3 linked regions of the Homo sapiens genome follow. The protein of the gene in region 1 interacts with the protein of each later gene in a biochemical or structural test. Each region holds a gene or a part of one and is shown in the gene's direction. Other genes may lie near its edges.

Evidence for each region.
Region 2: the proteins of CGAS (region 1) and TRIM6 form a complex in vitro, tested with the Homo sapiens proteins (one study listed by BioGRID).
Region 3: of the proteins of CGAS (region 1) and RNF185, one has a biochemical effect on the other in vitro, tested with the Homo sapiens proteins (2 studies listed by BioGRID).

Annotation. Positions count from the first base shown.
Region 1 is NC_000006.12:73,438,632-73,442,382, reverse strand, and holds part of CGAS (cyclic GMP-AMP synthase), read left to right. Parts: intron 1-1,937; coding exon 1,938-2,174; intron 2,175-3,751. UniProt on the Homo sapiens protein: Nucleotidyltransferase that catalyzes the formation of cyclic GMP-AMP (2',3'-cGAMP) from ATP and GTP and plays a key role in innate immunity.
Region 2 is NC_000011.10:5,595,093-5,598,843, forward strand, and holds the start of TRIM6 (tripartite motif-containing protein 6), read left to right. Parts: upstream 1-1,544; 5' UTR 1,545-1,805; coding exon 1,806-1,822; intron 1,823-3,751. Other genes in the region: TRIM6-TRIM34 (tripartite motif-containing 6 and tripartite motif-containing 34), read left to right, coding at 1,806-1,822.
Region 3 is NC_000022.11:31,163,045-31,166,795, forward strand, and holds part of RNF185 (E3 ubiquitin-protein ligase RNF185), read left to right. Parts: intron 1-3,751. UniProt on the Homo sapiens protein: E3 ubiquitin-protein ligase that regulates selective mitochondrial autophagy by mediating 'Lys-63'-linked polyubiquitination of BNIP1.

The DNA of each region.
Region 1 (3,751 bases):
AAGATGGGTGAGTATGGAGAGGAGGAAGATGTGGGGTGAAAGGAGAGGTATACCCTATAACCCTTTGTATGAATTTCAGAATAATCTAGCAGGGAGGGAGAGATGGCTGATGTAGGAGAGGAAATACTTGAAGAGCATGGTACTTGAGAAGTTGAGAAGGAAGGGATCCAGAGACTATGGGCAGAGGTGGCCTTTGAAAGGTAGATGGAGGGCCAGGCACAGTGGCTCACACTTGTAACCCTAGCACTTTGGGAGGCCAAGGTAGGCAGATCATTTGAGCTCAAGAGTTCAAGACCAGCCTGGCCAACATGGTGAAACCCTGTCTCTACTAAAAATACAAAAATTAGCCAGGTGTGGTGGTGCATGCCTGTAATCCCAGCGACTCAGGAGGTTGAGGCAGGAGAATCACTTGAAGCTGGGAGGTGGAGTTTGCAGTGAGCTGATATCACACCACTGCACTGCATCCAGCCTGGGCTACAGAGCAAGACTTTGTCTCAAAAAAAAGTAAGGTAGATGGACACTTACTTCCTCAGTGGTAACAGGAGAGGTGGCCAGGTTTGGGTAACAGGTGGCCAGGTTTGCAGATTTTTCTAGCATTTTCTCCTTTGTGCTCTACTTCGTCACTGTGGAAGTCTTATCTGACAGTAGTAGTCTTTACTGCTTATAAACCCCCAACTCCCAAAGCCATCTAAATTTCTGACCATAGCCACCCACCCAGCAGCCATCTCCACTTGAGTGTCCCACAGGTATCTAGAGCTCATTGTATCTCATGAAGTTCAGCTTGGCCCAATCTTTCTTCTTCCTGCTTATTCTATTTTGAGGAATGGAACCAACATCAGCCATTAGGCCTAGGAAGGCCAAGATCCTGGGATGGCATCCCAAGGCTCCTACTTTCCTCCTCACATCGTAGCCTCAACTCATGACCACTTATGTTGATTTGGACTTCTTTAGTTGCTCTCACTTCTTCCCCGTGTCTTGATGCTCACTACCTCTGTGCTGCCGTGGCACCCAGCCTCTGTGCCAGGCTGTTGCTGTGGTCTTTTTGCTGCCTGTCTCTTCCCTCTTGCCCATCTGGCCTCTCCTCTAGGCTTCCCTCCATTCTGCCATCTATAATTTGTAATGAAAATTTAACCAGGCACAGTGGCACATGCCTGTAATCCCAGCTACTCAGGAAGCTGAGGCAGGAGGATCAATTGAACCCGGGAGGCAGAAGTTGCAGTGAGCCGAGATCGTGCCACTGCACTCCAGCCTGGGCAACAAGACAATAAGAGTGAAACTCTGTCTCAAAAAAAAAAAAAAAGAAAAAGAAAAAGAAAAAAGAAAAGAAAAGAAAAGAAGAAAATTTAATCACAGCACTCTTAAACCTCAAAGTCTACAGAGACCCCTTCATCATATATGCCCCACACCATCTTGACAATGCCTCCCAATGGGAGATATCAGTAATTATTGTGTTTTTTGTTTTTTGTTTTTTTTTCTTTTTTGAGACAGAGTCTTAATCTGTCGCCCAGGCTGGAGTGCAGTCATGTGATCTCGGCTCACTGCAACCTCCGCCTCCTGGGTTCAAGTGATTCTCATGCCTCAGCCTCCCGAGTAGCTGGGATTACAGGCATTCGCCACCATGCCCGGCTAATTTTTGTATTTTTAGTAGAGATGGGGTTCCACCATGTTGGCCAGGCTGGTCTCGAACTCCTGACCTCAAGTGATCCACCTGTCTCGGCCTCCCAAAGTGCTGCGATTACAGGCATGAGCCATCATGCCCAGCCAATATTGGTTTAGTAAAATACTTTGCCTTTTAGAGCCAGTTTCTGTTTTACCACTAATGTTTACTTCATACTTAGCACACCAGAGATCTTCAATTATAGTTACATTATTTCCCCTGTATTTCCAGAGAAAATTGGATTAATAAATACTTTCTTTTCTTTTATATGTTCAACCAGATACAGATGTCATCATGAAGAGGAAAAGAGGAGGGAGCCCTGCTGTAACACTTCTTATTAGTGAAAAAATATCTGTGGATATAACCCTGGCTTTGGAATCAAAAAGTAGCTGGCCTGCTAGCACCCAAGAAGGCCTGCGCATTCAAAACTGGCTTTCAGCAAAAGTTAGGAAGCAACTACGACTAAAGCCATTTTACCTTGTACCCAAGCATGCAAAGGAAGGAAATGGTTTCCAAGGTATTTTAAATATTAAAGTTAACTTAAAGAAGTAAAAGAGTTGTTAATGTTATATGTTCAGGCAGTAAAAGATCAACAGCCAACCAATGCTGTTGTCATTTCAAGAGCCATCAGGCAAAATAGGTTATAAGATGGGAGTCTGGTGACAGACAGAATTGAAAAGGGCAAAGTTGTAGTATTAATATCAAATACTCAGCTTTAAAATGTCTAGCAATCCATATTTGAATTTTATTTTATTTTTTTCGGTAAAGAAAAGCAGTATTGGCCTTGGAGTCAGACTGCCCTGGTTCTGAATCCTGAGGCTCCTTCTACTAGTTGTGTGAATTCGAGCTAGTTATGATGCTTTCTAAACCCATTTGCTCATCCGTACACTGTGTTAACCAAAAGTACTTGAAAAATTCTGGAAAGATAAAATGTGCATGCAGTTCTGTGGCCAATTCTGTTCATGCCAGTTATACGTTATTACATATTAATATTATCATTAGAGTCTAGACTCTCATTCTCAGCCCTGGTTCTCTCTTTCCTTCATCTTCCCATTCCACTGCTCCTATGCAGCGTGTCTCAGCCTCACAGATCAGGACGGGTTTTCAGGCTGTGCTCTTGGGTAAAATTCAACTTCCAAGAAACAGACTGAGTTGGTCTACAGCTAAAACTTTATAATGGTGATATTTTTGAAGGTAGAAGGAAGTAACTTTTTTTTTTCTTTCTTTCTTTTTTTTTTTTTCCTGAGACAGAGTTTTGCTCTTGTTGCCCAGGCTGAAGTGCAGTGGCACAATCTCAGCTTGCTGCAACCTCTGCCTCCCGGGTTAAAGCGATTCTCCTGCCCCATCCTCCCGAGTAGCTGGGACTACAGGTGCCCGCTACCATGCCTGGCTAATTTTTTGTATTTTTAGTAGAGACGGGGTTTCACCATGTTGGCCAGGCTGGTCTCAAACTCCTGGGAAGTAGCTTTTTTCCTTGTGATTTAGTCTAAAAAAAAAAAGAAAGTAGCTGATTATTTTCATTTTCTCCCATAGATTTATATAGGACTTTTGGCACCTACTACTATTGGATTCCAGGGAAATTGAAGGAGACCATAAAACAAATGAACCAAGTTATAAATGAGTATTGCTGAAAAAAGCCCAGAAATAGTCAATCATGCTTAGTTTGATGGTTTGTGTTTTTGTGGACACACATCATAACTTCATATATTGCATACATAGAGGAATCATTTTCTGTAAGAAAAATAGTCTATGAAGGGTACTTACATATATCATTATTCATGTTTTTACAAAATGAATTATAGCTTTCTGCAAAGAGGTTGTTCTGCAAACTGAACAATTTTTAGAATAGCTGCCCCAGGAAACCCTCACTGTAAGTGATACAAAAATTGCAACAGGACCCCATACCATCTCTTGCTGACCCCATACTGTCCTGAGGAACACTGGAAGGTAAATCACCTTAGAGATGAAGAAGAGTCCTTTGGTGGCCCTGTGGCCTATGTGGTTAGGCAGTTCTTTTTTTTTTTTTTTTTTGAGACGGATTCTTGCTTTGTTGCCCAGGCTGGAGTGCAGTGGTGTGAACTTGGCTCACTGCAA
Region 2 (3,751 bases), on another chromosome or scaffold:
CAGAGAAATCTCTTGATACTTAACCCAGCTCTCTCCCTACTGCCCAATCCTCCGTCCAGACTTTTGTATGGACACCCCAGTCCCTTCTCTCTCTATACCTCCCTCCCCAAGCCACCTTCTAAGGCAAGGTGATACTCACCTAATCAGTCTCCTTAGGGAGGAACTTTGACATTCTTTTTCTTCTCAGAGTTTCTGTGCTATTGAAACCCTGTAGTTAGAGTTCTGAGGCTCAATAAGCTTTACATGTATTCATCAGACCTAAATAAAAACAAAGATTGTCTTCTAGTTATATAGGTCAAAATTACAGATACACACACACAGCTTTATACATACATACGTGTAATTTTAAACTGATGAATTTTAATGATCGTTTGGCAAAACATGCCATTATGCAAAGGGGCTTTTACTCGTATAACTTTATATGTTTATTTAGACATTTTAATTAATACGTCTATATGGAGTACAGGTGTATTATCAGTGTAATTAAACTCTGATATGATATTAGAAAGCTACAGTACACTGCAGACAATTTACAAGGGTCATCTCTGGCCTGGTGTTCTCAAAGGCCTCCGGATTTGCCGTTCATCAGGTAAGATGAACAGCTTTGCGTTGCTACCTTCAAAAATTCTTTTTTTTTTTTTTTGAGAGAGAGTCTCGCTCTGTCTCCAGGCTGGAGTGCAACCTCCACCTCCCGGGTTCAAGCGATTCTCCTGCCTCAGCCTCCCGAGTAGCTAGGACCACAGGCGCGCCCAGCTAATTTCTGTATTTTTAGTAGAGACAGGGTTTCATCATGTTGGCCGGGATGGTCTCAATCTCCTGACCTCGTTATCCGCCCGCCTCGGCCTCCCAAAGTGCTGGGATTACAGGGGTGAACCACCGCGCCTGGCCTCAGAAACCATCTCCATCTCCCTTACCACCTGAGGGGTCACTGGTGACCACACCCATGGAATCGGCTGGATCTCCTGCGGGGCTGGACAATTTGACCCTCCTCCTCCCCAGGCCCCGCCCCTTCCCCCCTGAGTCTTTCGGCCTGGGTGGAGGACGCGGCTGCTTCAAGTCCTTGGCTCTGATCCAGGCCACAGATTCCAGGTTAGTGAGCAAGTTTATTTTCTGGCCAGCTACCGCTGTCCCCACTTGTCTGGAGAGTTTGACCCGCTCTGCAGGTCGGGTTGGGGGTGGTTCACGGGTGAAAGAAGAATGAGGGAGACTTCTGCATTTTCAAGTGAACTCAAGTTTGGGAAGGGAGCACAGAAGAGGCACCTTTGCAGCTGGGAATAGGCCGTGTAAAGAGAGTTAAACCTCTATTCTACAAGCTGAAGTATGTAGAGGAGGCAGCTCTGGAAACTGCTTTAGGGAATCACTGCAAACCATTTTGTCAGGCGTGGATTCAGAGTCAGCATCCCTTCCCCCCTTCCCCCGTTCTCCCCTTCCCCCCTTCCCCCTTCCCCCTTCCCCCTTCCCCCTTCCCCTCCCCCATCTCCAGCCTGGCCGCTCCAGGAAGTGAGCACCGTTTATCCCCCACCCCAGGCGGCCCGACTCCTCCCAGAAGGAGTTGGGAGATGAGCCTTCCGCAAACTCCTGACCTGTGGGTCCGTCCGTTCAACGGCCAAAGGCTGGCGGAGGAGGGATCCCCTGCCTTTCTCGGAACGGAACGGAGCAGAGTCGTGCGTGGTTGAGTTTAGATAAAAGCCGAGTGAGCGCGCTCTGTTCCTTAAGATTAGTTTAAGGTGCCTTGGATTGCTCTGAAGAGCTTTGACCACCTGATATTGCTTACATCTGGAACTTCTTGGCTTCTCATTCCCCAGATGTGCGGGTCAGAGAGGTATGTCTACCGTTCTGTTGACTGGCTCTTATTGTCACTTCTGGCAGAGGTGACAGGGCAGTGAAAGAGATAAGGTCCTTTCCCTTTCGGAACTCATTATATCTTTATTTCTTTTTCTTTCTCACTGCAAATGACCCCACTGAGGTTAGAGACATTTTAATCAGTCAGTCAATAGAGACAGAAATGTGTGGTTAGGAGCATAGATGCCGCAGCCAGACTGCATGTGTTCAAATCCTGACTCTGACAGACACTGGCTGTGTGCCCGAAGACTGTTAACTTGACTTCTTTGAGCTTTAGTTTCTTCCATCTATAAGATGGACGGAGTAATATGTATATCTTAGAGTTTTGGTGAGGATTGAGTGAGACAGATTTAAACACGTAGGAGGCTGCCTGACACAAATTATGGTCATTATTACTGGCAAACTCCATGCCTAGCTTTAAAAAAATGCACAATCAAAACAATTTTTAAATTATAGGTTTCTGAAATGCAGGGGGTAGAAATTCTTTTGAAGTGGAAATTAAATTTTTTGTTTTGAAACTGATTATGTTCCAATTCAAATATTTATTGAGTCCTGTTAGATAATCAATTGCAGATAATAGGTTAAATATAACCCTACACAAAGATAAAAAAAAATGTTATTCCTAAAGTGCAAGAACTCATGCCCAACTCACTTATAAATGCAACTGCCACCTATTTTATTCCACTTTCACTAGGGCTCCCAGCTGGTGGACGGGCCCGCTCTGTCATTCCTAACTCTGAACCCCCAGCCTACACCAGCCCCAGTATCCCCTGCTGAGTCACTGATTTTTATTCTGAAAGCCATTTTGATATCGATGCAAGCTTCCATTCTAAAAGATGCTTCGTATCTAAATAGCAGGCCATTCTCTGTCCCCCTCCCTCTTCTAGCTGTTTTGCACCCTAAATTGTATCCACCTGGGAAAGAAGGTCCTTTATCTAAGGCAGTGCTTCTGAAGCCTTAATGTGCGTAAGAATCACCTAGAGAACTTTAATATTAAAGTGCAGATTCTGAATCATTCCAGGAAAGACTGAGATTCTGCATAAAGAACTCCAAGTGCTTGCAGTGTTGCTAGTTAGCAGACCTTTTTCAGGCGTCTGGTTCTGATTTAATTGGTCCCACCTGGTTGTGAATTTGGGCTCTTTCTTCTGCTAATTTGATGCACTGGGCTCTGGGACTGCAGGCTCTTCTCGTCTGCACTCCTCACAGTCAGAATGCCTTCTCTCAGCCCGTCCACACTGCTCTGGAGACTTGGCCTCAGTTGGAAACTGGCAGCCTCCCATATCTCCCTTGGGCTGCACTTAGCTGCAGTGGGCAGTCAGGGCTTGCTGGTGTGTGGGCAAGGGTCACCTATGCTAACTGTATGCTCCCCTCCTTCACAATTTCTTTCCCAAGCCTCAGCTTTGACAAGAGACCTCAACTCTTACAAATCTTTTTTCTGCTCAAGAATTTTTCTCTGTCTAAAGAGAGTATTAGATGAATATCTACAGCGCATATTAGATAGGAAAAAGACATATAATGAACTAGAAATAGAATGAAGCCACATATGTAATGTTACATACTCAAGTAGCCTCATTAAAAATAAGCGGGTGAAATTAATTTTAATACATTTCATTTAACCCAATACATGCAAAATACAATTAGGACATGTGATCAACATAAAAAAATTAATAAGATCCTTTAACTTTTTTAAACTAAATCTTCAAAATCCAATGTGTATTTTGTACCTAAAGCAACCCATTTCTGAGTAGCCACACTTCAAATGCTCAAGAGCCATATCTGGCTACATGTTTGACAACACAGTTCCATTATGCTTAGAAGATCAGAAACCAAGCTTTTAATTTTTCTTGTATTTTTTTGTTTCTGTCAGTTTATTGAGTTCTATCTAGTAAGTTACAAATTGTAAGCATAC
Region 3 (3,751 bases), on another chromosome or scaffold:
TGAGCCACCACGTCTGGCCTGCTTTTTACATTTTTAAATGATGGGAAATAAAAGAAGAATAATATTACATAGGTGACAATTACAGGAAGATAAAATTTCAGTGTTCATTTCAGTCACACCCATTTATTTATATTCATATATATTTACATATTGTCTTTGGGTGCTTTAATGCTACTCAGTGGAGTTGATTACTTCCCATAAAAACCATATGGTCCACAGAGTCTGAAGTATTTACTCTATGGCCCTTTATGGAAAAAAAATTGCCAATTCCTGACCTGCATCGTGTACATTTTTTTTTTTTGAGACAGTGACTCGCTCTGTTGCCCAGGCTGGAGTGCAGTGGCACGAACATAGCCTACTACAGCCTTGACCTCCTGGGCTGAAGCCATCTTCCCACCTCAGCCACCCGAGTAGTTGGGACTACGGGCACACACCACCACACCCAGCTAACTTTTAGGTTTCTTGTAGAGATGAGGTCTCACTATGTTGCCCAGGCTGGTCTCAAATCTCCGAGCTCAAATGATTCTCCTGCCTCAGCCTCTCAAAGTGCTAGGATTACAGGTATGAGCCACCACTCCCAGCCATGTATTGTTTTTTAACTTTTTATTTTATTTTATTTATTTATTTATTTATTTATTTATTTATTTGAAACGGAGTCTCACTCTGTCCTCCAGGCTGGAGTGCAGTGGCGCAATCTCGGCTCACTGTAACCTCCACCTCCCGGGCTCAAGCAATTCTCCTGCCTCAGCCTTCTGAGTAGCTGGGACTACAGGTGCACGCCACCTTGCCTGGCTAATTTTTGTATTTTTAGTGGAGACGGGGTTTCACCATGTTGGCCAGGATGGTCTCAATCTCCTGACCTCAAGTGATCCACCCACCTCAGCTTCCCAAAGTGCTGGGATTACAGGCTTGAGCCACCGTGCCTGGCCCCTTATTATTATTATTATTATTTTTTAGATGGAGTTTCACTCTTGTTGCCCAGGCTGGAATGCGGTGGGACAGTCTCAGCTCACTGCAACCTGTGCCTCCCAGGTTCAAGCGATTCTCCTGCCCCAGCCTCCCAAGTAGCTGGGATTACAGGCATGTGCCACCACACCTGGCCAATTTTTGTATTTTTAGTAGAGGTGGGTTTCACCGTGTTGGCCAGGCTGGTCCTGAACTCCTGACCTCAGGTGATCCACCCGCCTTGGCATCCCAAAGTGCTGGGATTACAGCCGTGAGCCACTGCGCCTGGCCTTTTTATTTTGAAATAATTTTACTCTTATACTAAACTTGCAAAAATAATTCACAAACTTTCTGTATATCTGTCATCTAACTTCACCTAATGTCAAAACTGTACATAATTATATCAGAATTATCCAAACAAGAAATTTAACATTAATACAATATTACTAGCTAATCTAGAGACTTTATTCAGATTTTGCTATTTGTCCCACTGTGTCCTTTTTCTGTTCCAGGACCCAATCCTGGATCCTACATCACATTTAGTTGTCAAGTCTCCCTGGTCTCATCAGATATCTGGGACAGTTCCTCATTGTCTTTTTTTTTTTTTTTTTTTTTTTGAGACGGAGTCTCACCCTGTCACCCAGGCTGGAATACAGTGGCATGATCTCAGCTAACTGCAACCCCCCTCCCGGGTTCAAGCGATTCTCCTGCCTCAGCCTCCTGAATAGCTGCAATTACAGGCGTGTGCCACCATGCCCAGCTGTTTTTTGTATTTTTAGTAGAGTGGGGTTTCACCATGTTGGGCAGGCTGGTCTTGAAGTCCCAACCTCAGGTGATCCACCTGCCTCGGCCTCCCAAAGTTCTGGGATTACAGGTGTGCCACCACACCCGGCCTGCATTTGCACTAAAATTTATTTTTTTTTTAATTGTTTGTTTTTGAGATGGAATTTCACTCTTATTGCCCAGGCTGGAGTGCAGTGGCGCAATCTTGGCTCACCGCAACATCTGCCTCCCAGGTTCAAGCGATTCTCCTACCTCAGCCTCCCGAGGAGCTAGGATTACAGGCATGCACCACCACGCCCGGCTAATTTTGTATTTTTTTTTTTTTAGTAGAGACAGGGTTGCTCTATGTTGGTCAAGCTGGTCTGGAACTCCCGGCCTCAGGTGATCTGTCTGCCTCAGCCTCCCAAAGTGCTGGGATTACAGGTGTGAGCCACTGCGCCTGGCCATTTGCACTAAAATTTATGAGGGTTCCAGTTTCTCCGCATCCACAACACTTGTTATTGCCCACTAAAAAAATTATATCTCTCCTAGTGGGTGTGAAGTGATATCTCATTGTGGTTTTGATTTGCATTTCCTTAATGGCTGATGATGATGATGATGATGTTCTTATTGGCCATCTGCATATCTTATTTGGAGAAATGTCTGTTTAGATCTTTTGCTCATTTTGTAATTGAGTTATTTGTTATCGTGTACAATTTTGAATGTAGGTATTCAAAGAGTTTGCAGATCTCTTGAAATAACTCAGTGATTTGACCTGCAAATTCTGAGGCAATGCCAGTATGTCCCTGATCTGAATGTAGTTGGATTTGGACATACTAAAGCACAAAGTAAATTTCCATTTGAGGCTACTGACCATGCAGAGCTTGACTCAAACCCAGCCACTTCTGGCCATGTGGAGTTGGAGTGGCCATGGGCAAGTGAAAGGAAGGGTACTATTTGCGTCCAGAAATGAGGTTGTCATCCAAGATATGATAAGACTAGTCAGGGAGCCTTCATTTTGGGTGCCACTCTGCTGTATGTCTGGTTATAGGCAGGGAGTAGAGGAGTCAGTGGTGGTTTGAATGCTCAGGACTAGCTGCTCATAGCTACATAACTACAGTGCTCCTAGGCCTATCTTGACCCTACAGCATTTGGCCATAACCAAACCATCTTGGACACATACCTTGAAACAAACAAAAGCTTCAGTAATGTAAATTGTGAAAGTAGTATGTGCTTATTTTATTATTATTTTTTTTTAGAGATGGAGTCTTGCTCTGTTGCCCAGGCTGGAGTGCAGTGGCACAGTGTTGACTCACTGCAGCCTCCATCTCCCAGATTCAAGCAATTCTCGTGCCTCAGTTCCTGAGTAGCTAGAATTACAGGCAAGTGCCACCATGCCCGACTAATTTTTGTATTTTTAGTAGAGATGGGGTTTCATGATCTTGGCCAGGCTGGTCTCGAACTCCTGACCTCAAGTGATCCGCCCACCTCAGCCTCCCAAAGTGCTGGGATTACAGGCATGAGCCACCATGCCCTGCCGATGTGCTCATTTTAGACATTTTGGGAAATACAGAAAAATCTCCCTCTCCCCACCCTAGTCATCCCTAGCTCTAGTATCTAGAGAACCTTTGTTGCAGTTGCTATATTTCCTTCTTGTTTCCTGCTACGGGGCACATTTTTAATAGTTGGAATCACTCACTGTACACAGGTCCATATCTTGCTTTTTCTTATTAACATCTAAAACTGAAGAAAACACACACTTTAATTTTAATGTCTCCATGTTTTTGCCAGCCTCTTCTATAAGCATTTCTTCTTCTTCTTCTTCTTCTTCCCCTTCCCCTTCCCCTTCCCTTCCCCTCCTCCTCCTCCTCCTTCTTCTTCTTCTTCTTCCTCTTCCTCTTCCTCTTCTTCTTCTCGAGACAGAGTCTGGCTCTGTTGCCCAGGCTGGAGTGCAATGGTGCGATCTTGGCTCACTGCAACCTCCACCTCCCGGGTTCAAATGATTCTCCTGCCTCAGCCTCCCGAGTAGCTGGGATTATAGGTG